Linked DNA regions of Homo sapiens. The protein of the gene in region 7 interacts with the protein of the main gene of each other region in a pairwise test. Each region holds a gene or a part of one and is shown on either strand. Other genes may lie near its edges.

The links.
Region 1: the proteins of QKI (region 7) and RBFOX1 interact in a two-hybrid assay, tested with the Homo sapiens proteins (one large-scale study listed by BioGRID and IntAct).
Region 2: the proteins of QKI (region 7) and DEPP1 interact in a two-hybrid assay, tested with the Homo sapiens proteins (one large-scale study listed by BioGRID and IntAct).
Region 3: the proteins of QKI (region 7) and YTHDF3 interact in a two-hybrid assay, tested with the Homo sapiens proteins (one large-scale study listed by BioGRID).
Region 4: the proteins of QKI (region 7) and SLAIN1 interact in a two-hybrid assay, tested with the Homo sapiens proteins (one large-scale study listed by BioGRID).
Region 5: the proteins of QKI (region 7) and RBM42 interact in a two-hybrid assay, tested with the Homo sapiens proteins (one large-scale study listed by BioGRID).
Region 6: the proteins of QKI (region 7) and MBNL1 interact in a two-hybrid assay, tested with the Homo sapiens proteins (one large-scale study listed by BioGRID).

Annotation. Positions count from the first base shown.
Region 1 is NC_000016.10:7,711,432-7,713,840, reverse strand, and holds the end of RBFOX1 (RNA binding protein fox-1 homolog 1), read right to left. Parts: 3' UTR 501-2,409; downstream 1-500. UniProt on the Homo sapiens protein: RNA-binding protein that regulates alternative splicing events by binding to 5'-UGCAUGU-3' elements. Regulates alternative splicing of tissue-specific exons and of differentially spliced exons during erythropoiesis.
Region 2 is NC_000010.11:44,976,010-44,980,116, forward strand, and holds DEPP1 (protein DEPP1), read right to left. Parts: upstream 2,801-4,107; 5' UTR 2,609-2,800; intron 2,047-2,608; 5' UTR 2,022-2,046; coding exon 1,383-2,021; 3' UTR 119-1,382; downstream 1-118. UniProt on the Homo sapiens protein: Acts as a critical modulator of FOXO3-induced autophagy via increased cellular ROS.
Region 3 is NC_000008.11:63,209,954-63,213,286, reverse strand, and holds the end of YTHDF3 (YTH domain-containing family protein 3), read right to left. Parts: 3' UTR 501-3,333; downstream 1-500. UniProt on the Homo sapiens protein: Specifically recognizes and binds N6-methyladenosine (m6A)-containing RNAs, and regulates their stability. M6A is a modification present at internal sites of mRNAs and some non-coding RNAs and plays a role in mRNA stability and processing.
Region 4 is NC_000013.11:77,753,187-77,756,686, reverse strand, and holds part of SLAIN1 (SLAIN motif-containing protein 1), read right to left. Parts: intron 3,485-3,500; coding exon 3,329-3,484; intron 1-3,328. UniProt on the Homo sapiens protein: Microtubule plus-end tracking protein that might be involved in the regulation of cytoplasmic microtubule dynamics, microtubule organization and microtubule elongation.
Region 5 is NC_000019.10:35,632,036-35,635,110, reverse strand, and holds part of RBM42 (RNA-binding protein 42), read right to left. Parts: intron 2,176-3,075; coding exon 2,110-2,175; intron 2,035-2,109; coding exon 1,859-2,034; intron 1,425-1,858; coding exon 1,092-1,424; intron 856-1,091; coding exon 738-855; intron 1-737. UniProt on the Homo sapiens protein: Binds (via the RRM domain) to the 3'-untranslated region (UTR) of CDKN1A mRNA.
Region 6 is NC_000003.12:152,275,429-152,278,928, forward strand, and holds part of MBNL1 (muscleblind-like protein 1), read left to right. Parts: intron 1-3,500. UniProt on the Homo sapiens protein: Mediates pre-mRNA alternative splicing regulation. Acts either as activator or repressor of splicing on specific pre-mRNA targets. Inhibits cardiac troponin-T (TNNT2) pre-mRNA exon inclusion but induces insulin receptor (IR) pre-mRNA exon inclusion in muscle.
Region 7 is NC_000006.12:163,417,718-163,421,217, reverse strand, and holds part of QKI (KH domain-containing RNA-binding protein QKI), read right to left. Parts: intron 1-3,500. UniProt on the Homo sapiens protein: RNA reader protein, which recognizes and binds specific RNAs, thereby regulating RNA metabolic processes, such as pre-mRNA splicing, circular RNA (circRNA) formation, mRNA export, mRNA stability and/or translation.

The DNA.
Region 1 (2,409 bases), on a different chromosome or scaffold from region 7:
TATTAAGTAACTAAATGGGGTGGACAGTTCAACCCTGATTTTTAAATAAGGAACACACGATTTTTGGCTCCTAATGAGCACTCAATGTATGTGAACTCTAGCACTTACTATATTTTTTTCATCTTATCCGAGGTGTCCCAAAAAGTAATTAATAGCTCAAACATATTTAAGATGAGTGATGTATTTTGTTTTAAACTGAAGACTTGATACTTCCATGCTAGGAGATAGCTAAGCTTAGTTCAGTTTCTTAAACAGCCAGGGTGAGTTCCACTGACTTCTTTGGGAAAATGAGTGAGGAAGGGAAAGATTTTAATCCAGAAAAGCAGGGAACTTGCAGGAGGCATCTGGTCTACTGGTGGCCAGGGCAGCCTCCTGCTCACTTGGGCAACACCCACCCCACATCCCCGGGCGGGCCCAAGTGCAATCACAGCTGTGGATAACAAATCTACCCACTGAGAGAGAAAACCCATGGAAGCCAAATAACTCAGAACACCAACTTGTACCTTTTCAGACTAAGCTTTTATTTTTTTGATATTACAAACCAGTTTTCTTTATTCACAAACCACTGTAAGTGATATAAACACTAATTTCTAAAGACAGATATACACATTTTCTGGGTTTGCAGATTGCGTGATGTGTGTGTTAAGAAGTCACTATATGCCACACATAATATTAATTTTCCATAATTCATAATAGCAATAGTTATTTAGATAAATGAAAACATTCCAAATAAATACTGTTTAAAAAAAATCCAAAATGTTTGTTTACATCTCTGACATACATTTTAAAATGACTTATTGGCATCTTGGAGTGCCTAGACAAAAGATTCTGCAACATCGGTTGGCACTCACTCACTCTAAATGATTTTATTAAAACTACATACAGTCATGGGGGAAAGTACAGCTCATTGATGAAAATCAAAACTGCAAATGAATTTTACTTTAACCAACACAGTAAGAATTCTATGTTTGTGATTCGAAACACAATACAAATTCTGGATTTTGAAATCTGAGGCGGCAATTGGGAGAAATTTATTCTCCATAGCCCCCTGCTCCTACTCTTTCTTCCCTCTGGAGGATGTCATAGTGTTTTAATAATTCGTTTCCTTTAAGAACATCAACCAGGCACCCATTGCCATAACACTGTTTTCCAGGTGGGGGAATGAGAATGTCTTAGTGATGCTATAAAACACCCTCTTGCCCCTCCCCTCACCCACCCAAAGAAGTCTGGTGAAAAGAACACTTTATATGCTTTTGGCTGATAAGTAGCTCCCCCCTCCCCCTTTTCTCTTTTCAAGATCACTATCGTCTGTCTTAGGTATCGAAGCTACAGAAACTTTGTTTTCAAATCTTGTGAAACTTTATTGATGGTTTAATATCCAACTGATCTTACGGCATGCACATAGGATGGCAAGAGAAAGCTGGATCACACATTTTTTTTTAAAGTTTTGTTTGGTTTTGTTTTAAAGCAGAGTTGTTACAGCGGATTGGCAGGTTCACAGCGGTGAGAGTTGATAACTTACTGAAGTGCGGGCCACAGGGCCTGCACTGTACACATGAGGACTTAACCTATGGCAGCAAAACTACTCAGGGACAGCCTGCTGCTGTTGTTTTTATTTAAATACAAAACAGGAAGACCCGTGACGGATACCCCAACTTAAGTTAACTTGTAAACAGGACAACGTGGAAAGTTCAAACAGAAGTACAGACAAACTGCAATTTTTCGGCTGTGTCACTCTGGCCCTGCATCCGAGAAAGGTGGGGAGACTTTGTTCTTTTGGGATTAAGAGGGTGGATGTACTTTTTTCTTTTTTTGCATCCTTCTGACAAGTGTCCTGGGCCTTGGAGACAGAACTAAAGAGATCATTTTGAGATAATCCTTGGGGGTATGGGAAAGAGGTGGAAGGGCAGGATCTCACGGACTGAAAAATTGCAGATTGTTCACACAACGCAGTCACGTTTCAAAAAGTACCAAGCTGATGAAAATACCATGATTATCTCTACTCAATGATTGCAATACTTGTAAAATGCTTCTATAAATCCGAATATGATTATCATGTAATTCCATAAAAATTATACGTCTGTCTCTAACAGTTGTTCTACTAGGCTAAAACTAAAGCTTCATAGACTGTTTCTAGAACTTAACAACTCCACTGCACAGATGTAAATTTTATACATTTTTTTTAACTGGTACAAAGAATTTAAGTTTTTATTACTTTCTTTTTTTGGAAAAAAAGAAAAAAATAGAAACAGTGCTTTTTTATCACCTTTTTATTAATGTTATTTTTTCCCTCCCATAATATAAAAGTCAGCAGTGATATCAATAATTTATTATACTGGAAGAAATATAAAAAGAATGCTTGTTGATGGCCTAACTAGTGGGTTTTTTTTCCTAAATAGCGACTGGTTA
Region 2 (4,107 bases), on a different chromosome or scaffold from region 7:
CTGGATCTCTCCCGAGGATGATGATTGGCTAAAGGCTGCCCCGGCTAAAGGCTGCCCCACACGTTTGCCCAAAGTCAGGGACCTGCAGGTTTGAGACCACCACAGAGACACAGTGGGCTGTGACAGATACAAACATTTGTCTACAGTGCTCATAAATGCAGCTCCAAGTTCACATGCGCAGATTCCCAGCCCTTGCAGGGTGTGAAGAACATTGCTGATGTCCCCATTTTATAGATAAGGAAACTGGGTAATTGCTTGTCTGAAACTTTTTCCTTTTAATATGGTTTACATTCTATCTCCAGAGAAAACACACTTAACAGAAGACAGAAAACATTTAACAAATCCAAAGCAATTAAAAATAGCCACAAAAAAAGAGAATAACCTAGACTGACAGCTCACAGAGCAAGGAGGTGGCAGAGACCTGCCCAGGTGAGCTTGGCTGTTGCCCCCAGCTCAATCTTCCTCCTCTCCTCTCTCTGTCCCTTCACCTCTGATCAGTCCCAGCCTGATTCCCGTTCCCTGATGCCTCACCTTCTTGCTGCCAGATGCCTCTAGGAACTAGGGTCCTTCAGACTCCAGATGCCCTGACCTGGGCCTTAGGACATCTTGACTTCCCCAGTGGACAGCTGGACAGTGCCCTGCTCTCACCCACAGCTGGGACCCTGACCATGCCATGAGGCCCCTGTGTGGAAGTGGTGTAGGGGTGGGGATGGTAGCACTGAGTGGTACAGATTCTATCTTGGCCCTCATCATGGGGGAACTCTCCCAATGCCACCACAGGACGTATGAGTTGTAGCCAGCAGAGTGCCCCAGTGGTGCCAGGTGACAGTCCCCCGGAATACATTAGTGCATTTGCTAAGACTCCATGTGTTCTCTTGGGCCTCACAGAACATGGGCTTTGAGGGTGGGAGCCAAGAGGCAGACTTGGGAGTGCCCGAGGCCTTGTTCTGAAACACCTGGGGGGCTGACACCCCCACTACCCTCACACCCCTACCACCAGTTTCCCCACCAGCGATGATGGTAGCTACTCAGCCAGTGGGCTCCTATATGCGGTTACACGTCAGAATGGCCTGGGAGGCAGGTGCCAGTAATTATCCCTATATTACCCATGAGAAACTGAGGAACACAGATGTTAAGTAAGTTGCTCAAGGTGATCAGCCAGCAAGGGTCAGAGCGAACGGGATTGGTAACATCTCCTCATGTGAAACAGGCTGTTATCATATTCAGAGGGGGTCGGTCTCACTGTGAACTGCCCAAGCAGGGGCCTCTGCAGAAAAGCATTTCCCTTTCAGAGACCTGCCAGGGGCAGTGACCACCATGGAGGAGACGAGAGGAGATGCAGACCCAGCATGCTCTCTACAGAAGCCTTTACTGGGGAGGGGTCAGAGTTCATGGATCACCGGGAGGTGCGAGTAGAGTGTTCTGAGGACACTGCTGGGGCGGGGGCGGTGGCGGGAGGCCATGGCTTGGGCAGACTGCCCAAAAGTCCAGCTTCTTAGGTCAGAGCTCTGCTGCCCATCCTGCGGTGGTCTTGCCAGGGAATGCCCAGGCATCCTGGCTTCACAGAGCCTCCCTCTGGGGGCCCCCATGGGCTTGCTGCTGTCCATCTGTCTATGTGGACCCCAGAGGCCAGCAGAGGGGCCAGTCCTCCTTGGCAGGTCCCTCTGGCTTGGCTGCTTTTCCTGGGACTCCCCAAAAAGCCAGTCCAGGGGGTCCACAGTATCAGCCATGGGCAGTGTGGGCTGCTGGCCACTGAAACGTGCGGTGATGTCTCGCAGGGACACAGCAGGGCGGCCCTTCCGGCAGGCCTGGGCTGGCCTGTGGGGTGGCCTGGGTTGGCCCTGGGCCGTGGCCTTGTCCAGCACAGAGGTGGGCTGTGCCAGTCGAGATATAGACCTCACGTAGTCATCCAGGCTAGGAGAGGGTGGGGGCTCCTGTCCAGGACCCCCAAGCAGCATCTCCTCCGTGGTCTCCCGAATTGTGGGCAGATGGGCCACGGAGAGCAGAAGCCGGGACCTCATCACTCTGGCGAGAGGAGGTGGCAACCTGTTGGGAAACAGAAGCCTGGTGGTGAGGGCCTGCCATGCGTCCCACCGCCCCTCAGCGTCACCACACTCCTCTGGGGCTGCCTGTAGGAATCCGGTGCCCTGAGAGCAATTTGAAGTCTACAGAGCCCAGACCAGAGCTCCGACTGCTGGGATCTTTTCTTCCTGTTCAGGTTAAAAACCCCAAAGGCTTAAGATTTTATCATTATCGTTTCAGAATGTGCACAGATAAGAGAACCTAACCTAACAAACACTGGTCAGAGGAAGGCTGGGTTTAAAACCAGGATCGGCCACGCACTGACCATGGGACCTTTGGCAAGGCCACCTCTCCAGGCCTCCACTTACCCATCCATAAAACAGGGTTATAAATACCCCTGGCCGGGATGTTGTAGGAAATGCATGAAATAACCCCTGAATCCCTTTATAAATGCAAAGCCCTCTACAGACAGCCCTGGTCTCTAACCCATAGGGAGGCTGTGCAAGTTCAGGCTGGGAATTGCCCTCAAAAATAAACAAAGCCCTTGTGTTTTGTCTCAAACCCAAGGGCAGCTGCTCTCTCTTACCTGGAGCTGAGGAGGTCTGGGGGTGGCAGGAGAATGGATGAGCAGGGACAGTCCAGTCCAAAGGAAGCCCCTGGGAAGCTTGGGGGCCGAAGGGTGGAGGGTCCGGCAGGGGGTCCAGCGTGGGGTCGCTGGGAGGAGGACAGTGCACTGAGTCTCACAGTCCACCGTAGCAGGCTCTTCCCTGAGCAGTGTGAAGAACCTTCGCAGGCAAGCTGCTTTTATACCTTCCCAGCAGCTATCAATCACTGTCACGAGGGCCAAAAATAGCCTGCTCGGAAGGCTGTCTTAGGAAAACAGCTTGGTGGGCGGGGCCTGGCCCAGCTGCCAGCTTGGAGGTGTTTTTCTGCCTGTAGGAGGCTGGGGAATGTTTACGCTGCAGGGCAGGAAAGGGGTGGGTTCACTGCTGGTCAAGTAGGGGCACTGGGAGAGGGAGGGGTTCCACTGGGCCCTCACAGGTAGCCCCAGGGCCACCCCTGCCCCAAAGCTTGTTTCCCACTCTGTGTTACACCACCCCATCATGACTCCTGTGAAGTTGGGCCAGGTCCTTGGCAACTTTGATGAAAAATCAGCAGCACAGGACCCCAGTCTGGAGGCAGCTGAGGCTGGGTCCCTAGGCCTGCTCCTAGGAGAGACACACCCTGCTCGCAAGGGACCAAGGGCGGTCTGCGGGGTCTGACCCTGGTCTTCTTACACCCCAGATGGGGTGCTTTCGGAGGATTTGTTTGTTTACTTGTTCACCAGATATGAGGTGCTAGTGTGTGCTGTGAATGCACTAAGCACAGCAAACGTAGCAGCGGACAAAGGTGTGGCCCCCTGGAGCTCATATTCTAGTAAGGGAGGAGATCAAGCCAGAGATGAATGGGTGCTGTGATTCAGGCAACAGCAAGAACTGCCTGAAGGAAAGCAGCGCAGTGGCATGCTGTGGTGGGCTGCCGCCACAGGTACAGTGGTCAGGGGTGTCTTCCCTAAGAGCAGATATTGGAGCAGAAACCTGAAAAAAATGGGAAAATGCACATTCCAGGTGGCAGGGGCAGCACGTGCAAAGCCCCTGTGGTGAGGGCGCGCCGGACAGACATGCTCAGGGCACAGCAAGGGGCCTGCAGACTGGCCCATGTAGGAGGGGGTCAGTGGACCTTGGGGTGGATGCTGTGTTTCCCTCTAGGAGGGAGGGAAAGACTGCAGGGTTTGAACAAGGGCACTGCAGTCTGGCTTCTGCTTCAAAGGATCGCTGCAGCTGCTGGGACTGGGCTGGGGCTGGGGCTGGGGGGCTGCCAAGGAGCACCTGGGCAACATTAGAAAGCCACTGCATCTGTCCAGGAGTGACCATGCCAGCAAAGGAGGCTGCCAAGGATGAGAGAGGCAGCCCCTGGGAAGCTCCTGCACTCCCCAGACAGGCCACAGATCCTCTGCCCCAGCCACAGCCCCACCTGGAACACGCCTGCCTGTGCTGCAGGTGGGGGAGAAAGAGGAGTCTTGAGAGTTAGCCCAAGCCTGAGCTC
Region 3 (3,333 bases), on a different chromosome or scaffold from region 7:
GTTTTGACAACACAAAACAATTCTGTAATTTTCCTATCTGAACAAATACCTTAGATAGAGAGCCCAGCAATAATCAGTGCATCACCCAGAGTTGCCATGATCCTATCCACATAAACTATCAATCCCAAGAGGTAATGCAGACAATGTCAGAAAAACATTCCTTGGTACCAAGAGTGGGGGATTAGGATTATTAGCTGCTGCCACTATTTCCTCCTGCTACAAAAAACAAACAGGCCTTCTCTTTCTCTTTTGTTCTAAACTTAGTATTAAAAGCATGTAAGTCAATAAGCTCCTTGGAATGGATAAAAAATAAGGTAAACTGTTACCCTCCCTCTGATTAACTGCTCTGTTTAATTTAAAGTCAACCAGAAGGAGTGATATAATCTATTTGTACGTGAAAGATATGTCAATCAGGAAATCCATAACAGAGTAGGCAAAAATGTTACGTTTTCTGGCAAGCAATACATATTCATGAAGATAAAATGGAAAGAACACAGATATGAGTGAACAATTTTTATTGAAACCCTCAAAGATTAAAGAGGACCAAATGGTGAGTTTGGGTACCATAACAGAAAATCTCACCTAACTGTACCATCATTCACAGGAATGAACAAACCCAAACACGACAAAATTCAAATTCTCATGTAATTGCTACAAGTGAATGTAAATGAACTAATCATTTTATCATAACCTTCCTTTAATCATACGAAAAAGGGAATTTACATGGCATAACAAAAGATATGCAAAACTTAATGAAAACACAATTCTCTTAAATTTCTTAAACTTATTTTTAAAGGATGCAGAATGCACTTGAAATGATTAAATGACTTAAGCTGATTCATTTTTTTTTATTGCAAACTGTTTTAACATCAGCTTAACCCCCATGCACGGTATTCAAAAAGAACACAGCTTTCGAATTAGAAAGATCACTTAAATTAAAAAGAGAAATTAAGTACTAAAATTAGGAAAACGCTGGATTTCTTTTGAAAGGAATCTTCAAGTACCAATACGTATAGAGAAATACTAATTTTGGTTACAGTTTCCTCCTTACTGTTAAATATACAAACTATAATACCTTTCAAAATAAAATACCCACATAAGATAGCTTTAATAAGAAATATTCAAGCCAGAACTTGGAAAAACATTAAGCAAGAAATTTACTGGGCTGATAATGTCTTAATTTGTGATCATTCAAACATTTGATGATGTGTCTCCTCTTGTAGACCCCAGGCTCTCTCCCTTTTGGTCCCCACAGTTAAGAGACATTCAGTTGGTTGTGCTTGAGACAACCTGTGATAATTTCATTCAGAGGAAAAATATTTTGCAATATAATGACAGACCAAGAAGGAAGAGAAGGTGGGTGCTCTGGAGAAAACTTATATGAGAAAAACACAAAATTATCACTTGAAAATAAAAAGATTTTTTTTTCCAAAGGAATGCTGCACCCATTTCACTTAAGATTAGAAATCCAGGTTAAAGGCACTGGGATGTACTCCTCACCATGAATAGACTCTCAATTACATTTATTCGCATGTCTGAGTCTATTGCAATCAGCCTGCTTGCTGAGTGCTTCCATGACACTCTTACATAAAAACCTAATGTAAATTAAACATGTTTGAAACCGTTTATAATGTAACTAGTTTTATAAAAATATCCAGAGTTGCTAATAAAGCACCAAGAAAAAGAGAACCTCAGGGGGAGGACTCAGATCCTTCCTACAAGGTCACCCTTTTATAATATTCTCTAATAGGACCTCCAGAATGACAACAGTCATCTTTGACATGTCCTACCTAGATAATCTTAGGGATGTAGAACATTGCTGTGGTGACTATACCCAAATGCCACTTTTCATTATAAATAGTTAAGAGACATGTTACAAGATTTCATGGCTTACTCTTAAAAAGGTAAAATAGGTGCAATTTTCCTTTAAGAAAGTCTTTATTTTATAATATACCATTAATATTTTGATGTTCCCTTCAGTAAACACTGATATAACTACACTGGGACTACCGAAGAACTGTGTAGTAGCTATGGTTATCTACAAATACTGTATTTTTTTCACTTGAATACAGTATTTGCACATTTAAAAAAAACATTGTACAAAATAAAATTATATAAATGAAAGCCTCAAAGAAATATCCATCACTAGGTCTTTGAGCTGAAGTGACCAAAGACCACAGTAAATGAAAACATTTCTAAACATGATGTAAACATAAATGAAGTAATGCAAAACATCAAGGTATTCAAATCTACTGTATTGCTATTTTCACCCTTAATGTATCTTTCTACATAGCTTTCTCCTTTTGGAACAGTAATACATGGGGCAGTACATTATTTTCATAACCTTATGCCATCAAATCAATTAATACAGATGCTTGACACATTTAATTATACAAAATCAATTTGCTTCAAGATACAAAATTAATGTTGATATGTAATTAATGAAAAAAATAAGATGTTAAAAAGATAACTATAAGAATATCCAGATATATGCTGTATTCCCACTTATATAGATCTGATCAATAAAACATCAACACATTCACTTAGATACTGATTTAATCCATGGATCAAGGCCATATTTTCAAAGTATTTTAAGGATGCCAGGACACTGCAAAAGCTGGAGAAAAGAGCTGAGGAACAACATATGCTTGCTAAACAAGAACTATGTTTATTTAGCTAGTGAATACCTAGAGTAATAAATTTTTACTTCATGATAGCAATCAGGCTCGCAAACACCCAGAAATAGGAATTAAGGGTTTTAAATGTAGTTATAAAGGTCATAAAAAGTCTGATTAGACTGAGGTACATTTACTCAAAATTTTGAGATTCATTAAGTGGTAGCAAACAAAATAATTCCTCAGACAAATGCACATTTTTCAGTATACATATTAATGGGGGGAGGAGGGAAGAAGAATGTGCATTAACTGGTGAAATCCACCAAGCTGCATATCAATATTCTGTTACACCAAACAGTTTGAAGACAAGGGAAATGTTCTAATATAATTTCAGATTATGTTTCATTTGGCTAAAATAGAGCTTAAGGTTGCTTTGCCATATTAAAAGTTTACTACAATAATTTTTCACATCAACATTTAGACTTGAACTCCAGGACTAAATATGGCATGATTATTTTGCTTTTAATCTGTCAAATAGCTAAAAATCGACAATTTAAAAACTACAACAAAGAAAAAGTTGAAGCAGTGTGACTCTTACATCATTGAACCACTTCTAATGGTTAACTGTTAGTATTTAACAAATTCAAAGAGTTAATGAATCCTTGCATTCATTCAGTCTTCTGTGCCTTAGCTAGGATGCATAATTACAAAAGACAGC
Region 4 (3,500 bases), on a different chromosome or scaffold from region 7:
TGATGACAGAAAGCTAGGTTATTTCTAATTTGGGGTTTTATGAACCTCCTTGAACATGTTTTGGTGATCATATGCACTCATTATGTTGGGTAACTATTAGGAGATATTAATTTAGCAAAGTTGCTGGATTCAATATCAAAACACAAAAATCAATTATATTCAAAATACCAGCAAACTAGTAGAAACTGAAAGAAACCTGAGGAAATACTATTTATAAAAATACTACTTATTAAAAATCACAATACCTAGAAATTAATTTAACTATAGAAACATAAAACCTCTATATAGAAAGCTACAAAACTTCACTGATATTAAAGACCTGAGTCAATGGAGGACTATTACATATTAATGGATGCAAAGACTTAATATTGTTAAGATCTTCCAAAAATTGATCTGCAGAGTCAATGAAATGCCAACCAATTTCATTTGAAATGAAATTACAGAACAGTTTATTCAGGAATAGAGTCCTACTATCTCTCCTACATGTAACATATATAACCACCCTTGATTTAAAAAAAAACACATAAGAGAAACTAGTTAGAATTAATAGGCATAATCCTAATTTTACAACTGAGAAAACAAGACTGAGAAAGAATACTTAACTTTCCAAAGAATTTATGATTAAGAAAAGACCCAAAACCAGGTCTTTGACTACAACTGTGTTCCTCCTTCTATACTTGCAGCCTTTCCAACTCTCTATCCTACCTCTGTTCTTTCCAGAAAGCAAAATGGCCCAGAACCAGAAATTGTCATGATAGGAACTTAGAATGCATAAAGAACAGTGGCTTAGAATGCTCAGAAATGAAAGTAAATGAGAACATAATCTTAAGATTTGAAACAAAAGTTATGAGAGTCCTCCTTCTCCTACACTTTAATATTCTTCTTGGGGGCTTTCTCTCAGTATTATGCTTGACTTAGAAATGATGATTTTTATATTTTCCTCATTGCTTTTACACGCATGAATTGGAATCTACTACAAAGAGGATGTTCCCCTCTATTTATCCAATTAAGTATGAACCCATGCATATTTATTTTATTCCATCAGTTATAATCCATTACTATAATTATTTACTCTGTGGCTCAAACTGCCCCAAATTTGGCCATTAGGAGGTTCCTTCAACTTGGTTCCTGTATCCTTTTGACATTTTCCCGTCATTTTGGGGGCACTTCAATCAAGGCTGAACATTCTTTGCAGTGTACATTCTATTTTGGGCTACATACATTTTTCTGGCACTCAAATCTGCTACTAATACACATTGAGTTGGAGTCAACAAAAATTCCTAATTGTTACTATATTTGCTATTCTCCAAACTGTATTTCTCCCCTCCCACACTTACACTATTGATTTTTTTTTTTCTTTTTTCAAGACAGGGTCTCATTCTATCTATTGCCCAGGCTGGAGTGCAGTGGTGCAATCTTGGCTCACTGCAGACTCAACCTCCCAGGCTCAAGTGATCCTCCTACCTTGGCCTTCCAAGTAGCTAGGACTACTGACATGTGCCACTATGCCTGGCTAATTTTTGTATTTTTTGTAGAGACGGGGTTTCATCATATTGCCTAGGCTGGTATGTTACTGATTTTTGTAATTCAGACATAGAATTGTATATTTCTATCAGCTAAATTTCTTCATGATACATTTGGCCCATTCTCCTAACCTCCTGACATAAAATGAGTTGTTAGTCCTCTCGGTTTCTACTATTGGCAAATTTCATAGGTTGTTTATGTGTCCTTATACAAGTCATTGGTTCTAAATATTTAATAGGTCAAGCCTTAACATAGAATCCTGTGGCATTCATTCAAGCATTCACTGAGAGTTCCTTATGTTCTGGCAATACGTCAGGCACTGGGAACAGAAAATCAAATAAATGATGGCCCAAGCCCAGAGGGAGCTTACAATCTAGTAAGGAAGACAAACATATTAATAGTAAAACATGGTACATTGAATAACAGAGGTAAGCACCGAAAATCTAATCCACTCTAGTATTGTTTGGGGGGTATTTGAGAAAGTGTGTTAGGGTGATTAAGTAAGCAATGAAGACTTCCAAAGGCATGGTATTTGGACTGTGTTATAAAAGTAAATAGGAGTAAACTGAACGAAGAAGGAAAAGGAAGAATGCTAGGCAGAGAAGAACAGCACGTGGAGCTAGAATATGATAGCAGTTAAAAGCTCTGGGAGTAACCAGACCTAGGTCTGCCTCTCTGCTCTTCCAACTGTATGGCCTTAGACAAACTGTTCCTTAACCTATCAGAACTGTTGCCTCTTCCACAAAATAAGAATGGCAGTAGAAACTAATTCATAGAGTTGTTGGTAGAACTAAATAAGATAATGAATATAAACTAGTTAGCACAGTTCCTTGTACAGAGTAAATGATGTCACTTGGTTGTTAGGAACTAAAACATAAAGAAATGAAAGATCGCTGCATGTTAGGGAGATACAACCTGACACCTAAAACTAAGTTTGAGGGAGAAAAGCTACAAACCATTTTGGATGCAGACTTAAAACATCCGGTTGACGACTCTTGGCCAGTACACTCAGAACATGCTCAGCCTCCCAAGTTTGGGCATTTTTATGAATACTGGTAATATAACCTTGTGCCTTCCTCCTGGAAGTCAGTGTAAGACTTAACTGCAACAACCCATATAGACAGCATGAGTAGGAATAGGGGGATGCCGAAGCAGCACATCCCCACATAAAGTGAAGATACACAGCACTAGGCCTAATGCTAACTGTGTCACTCACTGCTGGGTAAAACATAGAAAGTAAGTAACAGAATGTGGGGTAAGCTAAATAGAGTGGACAAAAACTACTTTAGACACTCTAAAATATAACTTCATTTAGGGGGAAAAAGACAAAAGTATGCATAGGTGAAAAACAAGACAAAAGGAACGGCTAAACAGAATTAAGTGTGCTTATTCAGGTAGACAGCTAGAAGGAGGAGGATCTGCAAGGAAAACAATTTTTGTATGATGAGTGGATAAATCAATCACCATGTAGTACTTCTACTATCCTAGGATATAAAGGACTACAAATAATTTACTATTATTATACAAATAACAATTTACTATTATTAATTGATACCACAGGCACTGGTAAGTAATTTATACCACAGGCACTGGTAAGTTGAATAGTAAATATACTATTTGAATAGTAAAAATACTATTCAACTCTAATGGTGAAATAAAAAAATAAGTTACACGGCAAGGAAAAAAGTTTAGTGTTCTTTCAAGTAAATACAAAGAAATAAAACAGACATTTTCCTTACAATTAAAAATTATAAAAAATTATACAATTATACAATATATAATTATATCAAATAATTATACTCACTACAAGATTGTATTCTTGAAATTCCATTTCCAGCTCCATGCAAGCTTGAGTCAAAACTCTGACTATTTCGCACGGTGACCGGAGAACTAATGTTGCTACTAATGGCAGTTGTACTTGGCATCCGGGCTAGGTTAGGCATACTTCTTCGGAGCTTATCTGGAAAAGAATTTTA
Region 5 (3,075 bases), on a different chromosome or scaffold from region 7:
ACTCCTGACCTCAAGTGATCCACCTGCCTCCGCCTCCCAAAGTGCTGGGATTACAGGTGTGAGCCACCGTGCCTGGCCAAAATATCTCTTTTCTTAGGAGATAAATACTGAGATATTTAGAAGTGATTAATTCACTTATAACTTGCTTCAAATGACTGAGCTAAAAACAAAGAAACCAGATACATACACAAAGAGGAAAAAAGTGAACACAGCAAAATGTTAATTGCAGAATCTAGGTGGTGGGTAGACGGGTGTTTACTGTGCCATCTGTGTTTAAAATTTTTCCCGGCCAGGTACAGTGGCTCATGCCTGTAATCCCAGCACTTTGGGAGGCTGAGGCAGGAGAATCACTTGAACCTGGGGGGCGGAGGCTGCAGTGAGCCAAGATTGCGCCACTGCACTGCAGCCTGGGCGACAGAGTGGTACTCTGTCTCATAAAAAAAAAAAAAAAAAATTTTTATCCTAAGAGTTGGGAAAAAAAAAGAATGCTCTCTGAAGCCAGGCACCTCATGAGTAAAACAGGCTACAAAGCCCCATGTCCCCGTCACCTCCACCAAGCTCCGGCCCATGGCTAGGTGAAGAACCAGCCCCTGAGCCATAGCCTCCCCTCCCCAAGGTGGGCTAACAACAGCGCCCACCCTACTGAGAGGGTTCACCCTCCCAGTCTGCAGCCCAAGGACAGCAGCCTGGTCTGACCTTGGCCGAGCCACGCCTGACCTCGAGCTTCAGCAGCTTACCTGCATCCCACTCCAGCAGGCTGGGGTCCTCCCAGCTGCTCCCTGCCGCTGTGCGAATGCACCGTTTCAATTTCTCTGGCTTCCCCTTCTTCTTGTCTTCACCCAGGGGCTCTGGGACCTGCAGAGGAAAGGGGAGAGGTGCAAAGGGGTTGGTATTGGGGTCTCCCACTGTCCTTTGGTCCCCGGCCCTCCTGCCACCACAGTAAGGGCTGGATGTGCTTCTGGATGTGGGGCACATGTGTCCGCCTCCCTCCCCCAGGTCCTCCTGCTGTCCGGTCTGTCTGTGTGGAAGTTCCTGGGCTCCTGTCTGCCCCCCGTCCCTTCTGTCCCTTCACCGCTAGGCTCCCTGCTTACCTCAAGAGCCATGAGGCCTGGGGGTGGCTCTGGCCGAGGGGGCCGGGGCCGAGGACGCAGGGACAGGAGTTCAGGAATGCGCAGCGGGGGCAGGAGGCCGCGGACGACCTCCAACGGGAGGGGCAGGGGCTCAGGCTCGGGCAATGGCATGGCCAGGGCCAGCGGCAGGCTGGGCCCAATGACTGCAGGGCCAGCTGGGGCACCTCCTGCCCCCACGGCCACAGCCGCGCTAGCCTCCTCCAGCCCAGCCGCCGCCGCCACCACTGCCTCTTCCTTCTCTTTCAGGCCCAACCCCAGGCCTAGGCCCAGCTCTCGGGGTGCTGCTGGCTCTTCCTGTGGGTAAGAGGAGAGCATGAGGGGGGCCGGCTCACAGGCTCAGACTTTACTGTCATCTCCATTCCATCCAACAAAGAAAGGGCCTGGGGGCCAGAGAGCAGCCAAGAGACACCCAAGCAGAGAGTCTCCAGCCAGACAAACACAGAGAAGGAGAAACACAGGCAGAGAGAGACAGCCACAGACAAGAACATCAGTAACAATCAAAAGAGAAATATTCCAATAGCATGTTTCTCTCTGTACTCCCTTCACAAAAGGAGAGAACAGATTTTGCCACAGAAAGATGCAGAAAGAGACAGAGACAAAGGCAGAGTGAGAAGGTAGAGAAACAGAAAGTCAGGAGAGAGGCCAACTCAGACATAGCCCATTGGGCCAGGATGGATGGTCTCCCCGTCCACCGCACATCTGACCGTTAGTTCCCTGTTCACACTCACCAGAGGGGGCCTCAGTGCAGCCATGGAGCCCAGCGGGGGCCCTGGAGCCCGAGCCATTGGTGGCAGCATCATGGGTGGTCCAGGGGGCCCAGGCAGAGGGGGGCCCACGAGGGCCTGGTGAGGGGGCCGTAGGGCCATAGGGCGGGGGCCGGCTGCTGCAGAGGAGAGAGCGGAATCTGTCAGGGTGTTAGTGGGGAGTTCCAGGGCCTGGGGGGAGTTATGTGGCAGGGATGATGACCCTGGCCCCTCACCTGCTCTCTGTAGCACGTGGGGGACGAAGGCTGGACGCAGGATAGGGGCCCTCTGGGGGGCCACAGCTGTGGGAGAGAGAGATGGGGGTGTGTGTCATGGGGGACAGGGGCACTTGGGACAAGGTGTGTGTGTGCATGCGTGTGTGTGTGTGCACTCTCAGCATCAAGAAATCCTGGAGAAGAGTCTGGGGAGCCCTCCTGGAGATGTGGGGGCCTCTCCCCTGGTTCATTCCATGAAAATTTACCACTGAGAAGCTCCTCTGGCTCAGCCCTGTGGCAGGCAATGCTGGGGACACACCAACAGACCCAGGGTTCTCAGGGAGCTCCTGGTCCAGAGGAGGAGGGAATGGAGACATCACTAGAGAAGGAGAGCCAGTGGGGACCAGCGCTGGAAGCAGGGAAGCCCAGGCAGTGGGATCAGTGCTAAGAGAGGGGAGCCCTCTGACCCAGCCAGGCCCAGGGAAGGCTTCCTGGAGAAAGGGACCTGTGAGCTGAGACCCAAGGGGCAATGAAGTGTTAGGCAAGGGGTGAGTGGGAATATTATTGGCAGGAAGAATATTTATAAGCAAAACCTTTCCCTTTTCAGTTTAGTGTAACTGTAATAGAAGTAGTGGGGCTTAGAGAGTGTCATGAGAAGGGCTGAGCAGCCAGCAGGCACCCCAGTAGAGCTTTTTTGTTCTTAAAGCACAGCATTCTTGGCTGAGCCATGGGTGTCCTCCTGAGGGCACTGGGGAGCCACAGCAGGGTTGGAAGCTGGGCAGGGGAAGTAGGTCAGATTTGCATTTTGATCAAAACCATACTAAAAAGTAAGAGACATTACAACTTCTCAGAGATCATCAGATTAATAAGTATAACAGGATTTAGGTAACATAAGTAGCACGTTTGGTTTAACCGAGATTATACCAGAATTTTACATCCAAGTAAGAACACGCATCCTTTTCATACATATAAGGAAGTAATGTCCTA
Region 6 (3,500 bases), on a different chromosome or scaffold from region 7:
GGCTGTGTGCAGTGGCTCACACCTGTAATCCCAGCACTTTGGGAGGCCGAGGCAGGCAGATCACGAGGTCAGGAGATTGAGGCCGTCTTGGCCAACATGGTGAAACCCCGTCTCTACTAAAATACAAAAAATTAGCTGGGCATGGTGGCGCATGCCTGTAATCCCAGTTACTTGGGAGCTGAGGCAGGGGGATTGCTTGAACTCGGGAGGCGGAGGTTGCAGTGAGCTGAGATCATGCCACTGCACTCCAGTCTGGCAACAGAGCAAGACTCTTGTCTCAAAAAAAAAAAAAAAAAAAAAAAAAAGGCTAATGTTTATACCAGGCAGGTAGAAAAACAAAAACGGACCTCATTAGAGGATACATGAGGTTTCTAAAAGTGGAACTCCTTTGTAAATGTAAGAAGTGATATCAATATTATTATTATTTTAATATACTTATTTTGAAGTAACTAAGTTTTTTTGTTTATTTCTTGAAAGAAACAATAGATTGGGGAAAAACCATTTACTCTTTTCATGCCCTAGTTTCTAAATCTGTGACATTATAAAGGTGTAAATATTTATGAAAATAGTAGAAGTTGCCACTGGCTGTATTCTTTTAAGTAAGGTATCTCATTTAATCTTTTCTACTGTAAAGTAGCCGTAAAGTAATAAGACTTTTACCTTAAAGATCATGACTAGAACAATTTTTTCATTTGCGGAGATATGAGGCTTGTCATTTTTATTATTCCAATGTTCATGTTTTTAACCAATTTTTCTTGTCTTGCCTCCACTGATTATATATAAAGAATAGCGATGAGAATATAGCTGTAATTATGATTACTAACATCTTTGAATACTTTCTGTGTGCTAAGCTAAGGTTTATAATTAATTCATTTATTCCTCAGAACAACCCTATGGTATAGGTACTGTTAATATTCTGATTTTACAGATAGGGGAACTGAAGCACAGACAAGTCCAATTAATTGTGCAAAGGTACTTAATTAATAAGTAGCACAATAAGGAGTTGAACCAAGGTAGCCCAGCTTTAGAATCCATGCTCCTGTGTAAAAGAATAAAAACAGATTTTAAAAATACTTATTTTGGATGCTGATAGGAGCTTGAGAACATAAACGTTTGGAATACTTTAAAAGACTTGTACTTTCTACATCATTTGAAGAGATTCCAGAAGAATGGGCAGAAAGTAAGAGGATAGAGAGAAAAGGCCTGGGGTGAGGGGTGGGAAGCATTAATAGGATAGGAAGAAATGAGGAATCAGGTGTTCAAGGGAGATTGGTGCTACACTTTTGAGGTCATTGATGACCAGCTAGTAAGTTTAATAATACGTAGTGTGGAACATAAACAGACACTTGGTGTTTAGGGTAGTAACCTTACAGGAGTTGTGTTTTGGTGACATTTTATAGGGGTAGGACACATATAGAATGAAGTAGAGATTGTGGTTATACAGAACAGAGATGAGGGACTAGATGAGGGGAGTGGCCCTAGAATGAAAAGGAGGACATGTATGCTGAGAGAAATGTGATAAGGTTAGGCTGCATAGGATGTACCAGCTGACTGGATGTGGATATTAAAGGCAATGGGGGTATTAACAATTATTTTTAAAATACAGCAAGAATTTAAAAAACTTTTAATCAATCAAAAATTCCTTATTTAAGAATTATATAAAATATCAGTAAGTGAAAAACATTTAAAATTGTATTTTATCAGGGATTATAACTTAAGTAGAAGATACATGTTAATTTCTTAAAACATTTCATTTCTGTGCTAAGCTCTTTCAAAGCACTGGATGGTGATCTAAAGGTCACCAAATTCTTTGTCCCAAATTGGTAATTTTAAAGTAAACATAATTTCAACGTTAGGCCTATTTTGTTATTTGCTGAGAAATGTCTCAATGTCAACCAGGCAGTTCTCCTCTCTTATTAAAGTCCATGCTCAGAATGCCTGTGTAACCTATCCTTAGTGATAAACAAGGTGGCAGATAGATACATGATAAAACAAGTTTGCCATGTGCTCAATGTGGCTGACATTTATACTTCTCAGACCTTGCTATTTTAGGGAAGGTATCAGTATAACCAGGGCATTCTTTTTCCTGGAACTAAAAATCCTTAATAATCAGTCACTATTATAAACAGAATGATTTACATACAGGAATCAATAAACAGTTGCTTTTGGTTAATGGTTATCTGGAGTAGGAGGATAGTTATATTTCAAATAGAATAGAAAGCTTTATTGGAATACTTACATGTCTTTTTAGTTTGAGGACCTTACAAGCTTTTTACAAATAAATGGTTTAAAATAGTTTAAACAGAAAATGTCAGAACATTGATAGATTATGTTTTATTTAATATACAGAGAAAAATTCCCATGAAATAAAGACAGTTTTCAAGAAAAATATTCTATTTATAAATATTTACAACTTATTAGTTATTTAGATTGCCCGTGTCCATAAAAATAATACAGAAATTACACTATTTATGTCTTTAAATATAGCATGTTTCTATAAACTAGAGAATAATGTTGACAGTATTTTATTTTGCCTTTGTTAGTATTATGTGAAAGTCACACTTATTACATGCCTTTTTCTATTATTAGACTTTTTTTCCTATCTAGTTTTTGCCTTGTGCTATACAGTATGGTGAAAATCTATTTAGCTATGTCATTAAGATAATGCTTAGAAAATGCTAATTTTTAAGTAACTAAGATTAAGTAGTATTGGATATTCTTTGCCTTCTTTATTATTCTGTCATTGGGCTAATTTTAACTAGACAAATTTATTCCAAAGTATTTTGAGCCATTATTTGAACTTCATTGCTGTAACATTCAGGAAAAACTGCATTGTCTACCTAGTGGCATTCAGATAAGGCATTTGGTCTTAGGTACCTCTTCCAAAAGACTTTTAAGAGGTTTGATAAGCATAGCAAAAGTGAACGACGGAGGATACAAGAAAATCTTTGATCCAGGAGTAGTCTCTCTGAAGCATTGCATGACCTTTCCAAAAAATAATTTGAGAAGTGCCTAACAATAGAAAAATATATATTTTTTCCTTCAATAGGAAAGACTTTAGAAAAAATATACTCAAGTAGAATTCTGCATAATGCTTTCTGGGGGACCACATTTGCTGAAAATTGCCTACGGGAAATGACTTTCTCAGAGTGATATAGTTTTGAGGACTGAGATTTTAAAAGTAAATATTTTATTGGGAGCAATTAATTTAGGAAGAATAGTATTATGCCTATTCCTCTGTAGTTGATTAAAGTTTACTAAGTGCTGAGGTCTTTTCCCTTAAAACATTACTTTGCCATGTTAACAATCAGGTCATAGAGGAATGAATTCATCTTTTGTGTTTTGCTAAATAATCAGTTAACAAACATATTCTGAGCACGTTTAAAGTCAAAGGATTGTAGTAGGTCACAAGAGGGAGATCGAAAGTATAATTACATAGTGTCTTTCCTTCTTTGACATACAATTGGGTTGAGGAGAAAGACTTGAAAACTTAATGCAAG
Region 7 (3,500 bases):
TGACATGTTTTTAAGTTGTTTTTAAGAAAACATATAAGTGCCTTTTCCTCTAAGGGCACAAAACTATCAACAATCACACAACTGCTTCATTTCTTAAAATTATTAGACAATATTTCTAATGTCACTTTCAGATTTTCATTTTTTTTTAAACCATGTGCACATACCCTATCTTTGAGAAACTAGAAATCAAAAAAGGAGGTAAGATGTCAACATGTTTAATTCAACAAACATCTGAGAAGTGTATGCCAGGCTCTAAGGTAGGCACCTTCAAGAAAGTAATTTTAAGAGGGCAGACAGGTAATAATATTCCAATGCTAACTATAATGATCACTCCATAGAAGGTAGTACCTAACACAGACTGGGGTTATAAACAAATTTCTTAACAGTCCCACTAAGATAACAAACTATATTCACCATAAAAGTTTATTGTTAGTTGTGATTTTCTGTTAAGTAAAAAATATAACTGTAAAACACGAAATAATCTAGCTATTGTGGGCCCAAAACTTTTTTAAAGGGGTATAAATATTCCCTAAAAGTTATCATTAAGGGTAAACAACACATTATTGCACTTAAAATTCACATTAAGCTGTCTTAATGTCAAACACAGGAGGGACTGGAGAAAAAAATGAAGTCCCGTTGATCATGTAAATAAAAAGCTGGTATATATCTGTGTGACCTCCTAACATAGGCCCACTCACCACTCCCCATCCCTTGGCCTTAAAATAGAACCTTGGATATGTTCATAACAGCTGACATACCAATAGCAGAAAGTTGCTCAGTGGGCTGCCTTTTAAGTTATCAACAAACAAAAACCAACAATGTCACAGCATTTTCCATCTCCAACAGAGAAGGGCAAGTTTTGCTTACAACTGCAACATCAAACAAATAAATCAAACAAATGTATTAGCTACACCGAATTTCTCAAGTAAATTAAACTGTAGTTCCAGTTTATAAAAAGTTGCTCCTATGATCACACTGGTGTAATTCCCTTGATATAAAAACCAAACCAAACCATAAAAAAAAAAAAGGAAAGAAAAAAACCACCAAAAAAAAAAAAAAAAAAGAAAAGAAAAGAAAAGCCCTTACATGTCTAAGTATATTGGCCTCAAAAAAAGAATCTGAATCATGCTTCGGTGAAGGCCAGGTCAAAGCATGAGGGTTTTATTATACTTCACTTCTTTCATCACAGAAATCTATTTCCCTGAAAAAGGAAACCAAAAACCATTTGCTCTTATGGGAAACTGACCAATTTCAATCAGCTCCAGGACAGCGACAGTGACTAGTGAAGCATTAACAGAAATATAATGTGCATAAAGCATTTAAGAAGTCAAATTAACTTGATTTAACTTGACATTCTCAGTCATTTAAGAAAAAGTGTTCATCCCAAAATACACTCGTAAATGTGACTAGCAAAGAGACCTATTTCTATCAACTCAACTGTGTTACAGTCGGATACAACTTTTACTACAAAACATGTAAACTGGATACAGTTTCCAAAGGAATCACGTTCCACCTACAGGGGAATTTAGCTTTAAAAGTACAGAATGAATGTTTAATAAATGCCCCATAATGATACAACTGATCTTTTCCGTGACTGCCAATATATAGCTGCTGACACCTCCTGGGTGAGAAAAGATAATGGAAAGAAGTGATTATAAATAGTAGCTTCCTTCTTGCTACAACTAATTCAAGGACTGTGTACAAAAGCAATATCTTAGTTTCTAAAGAACAGATTATTTCACCTTAAAATCTGTTTGTTACAGATGATGATTACTGACAACAGTAATTGCTTCTTCAGACAAAAAGAAAACCTTTTTGTAAGAAATCTGTATAGCAAGAGTCCTCTCAATACCAACCACCATATAATTCTTAAGTCAAGGCTTTTGTAAATGAATTCTCAGGAAAAAAAAAAATTATGGTAAGAAAACCTTATGATACATCCAATAACAGAGGCAGAAGAAGTGAAAATAAACATTAACATGAAAAAATAGCAACTATTTAAGCAAGTTTTAACGAAATATTTTTACTCATATATTTAAAGGAGAGGGAGCAGGCAGGGTATAAACTAAACTGAGGTCAGACAGAAAGTTTACTGTAAACACAAAAAGACCATCAGAAAATGAAAATATATTTTCAAATCAGTAATACGGCATTCTAATCCATCTGCTCTCTTTTTCTGAGCCACACACTAATTTTTCTGATATCCACGATAAAAAGATTGACTGTTCTTCCTCATTACACATTTTTTATTTCCCTATCAGCAGCTTTAAGCCCACCTCCACCTAAAAAATTGAAAACTCAAAATCAGCTTTTAAAATACTAGTTCTCCATTTTCCCCTAATACAGGATTGTTAAGTCTAATAGACCGTACTCTTCACCTTCTCGATTCTAAATTACAAAACTTTATTATAACAATTTGCATTCAACTACTGTTGTTTCATTCTCATGACAAGAAAAGTCTGTTTTTTTAAAAACCATATATTAACTGCTCTAAGGGTTCAGTTGAAAACGTCTCTCTAAAGGTAGAGCAGTTTAAGACCTAGGTTTTATGTGTAATCCTATAATCATCTCTATCTTCAATAAAAGGTTTCAAACTCAAGTTTATGTCCTTTATATTTTATGATGGGCCCAACCTAAAATGTATTCACAACTTTAAAAAACAACCGTGTTGAAGATACTTCAGTGGAAGAGCTGGCACACACACCCCCACCACCAGCAACAGCAAAAAACAAAACAAAACAAAAACAAGCAGTAAAACAAAAGGACTGTCCACAGTCAAGATACAGACTAAAGGTTAACTTGGCAAGGAATTAAAATACTCATTCTAAAACATCCAAGTCTTCATCAACTGGGAAAACCAGCACACTTAATCCTCAAATTTGTAACTAGCCAAATGGAAATTCTTAGGCTGACAAGCATATTTTTAAAAAGCTTATTCTTTGAAAAATATTTTAAAATAAAAAATTTAAAATCTCATTTAAAATTCCTAATTATCAGAAAATACATCTACTCTAAGCACGATGTTAACTTCATCAAACCAATCACTAAAGTAAAATTTTTACTAAATTTTATCTAAATTTAAAAGTAATTTTTCAGCCAAGCATTATAGGCAAAAAAAAAAAAGTAATGCCTAACCAGAAACAAAAGTCATGATCAATTTGTTTTGGACAATGACAAACCACAAAGGGGTAAAGCACAAGATGCCAAATTTCACAATTAAATCATCCAGAAAAAAAAATGTGATGGACTTCAGAAACCAATATTTTTCTTAAGTCAAATTAAGTTTATAACAAGGCTAACAATTACAGGAAGCCGCTTATTCCACACTAAGGAATAGCCCTTTTTCCTGCATGTTTGTACTGGTCTGATAAAAAACAATCAAACTTCCTCGTCATTATATTGCCCATTTTAAACATACTATATGCCACACAGAAGCAATCTTTACACTGGGGAATTGACAAGGCTAAAACTAAAGATAGCAAGACAAGAGATGGAGTAAA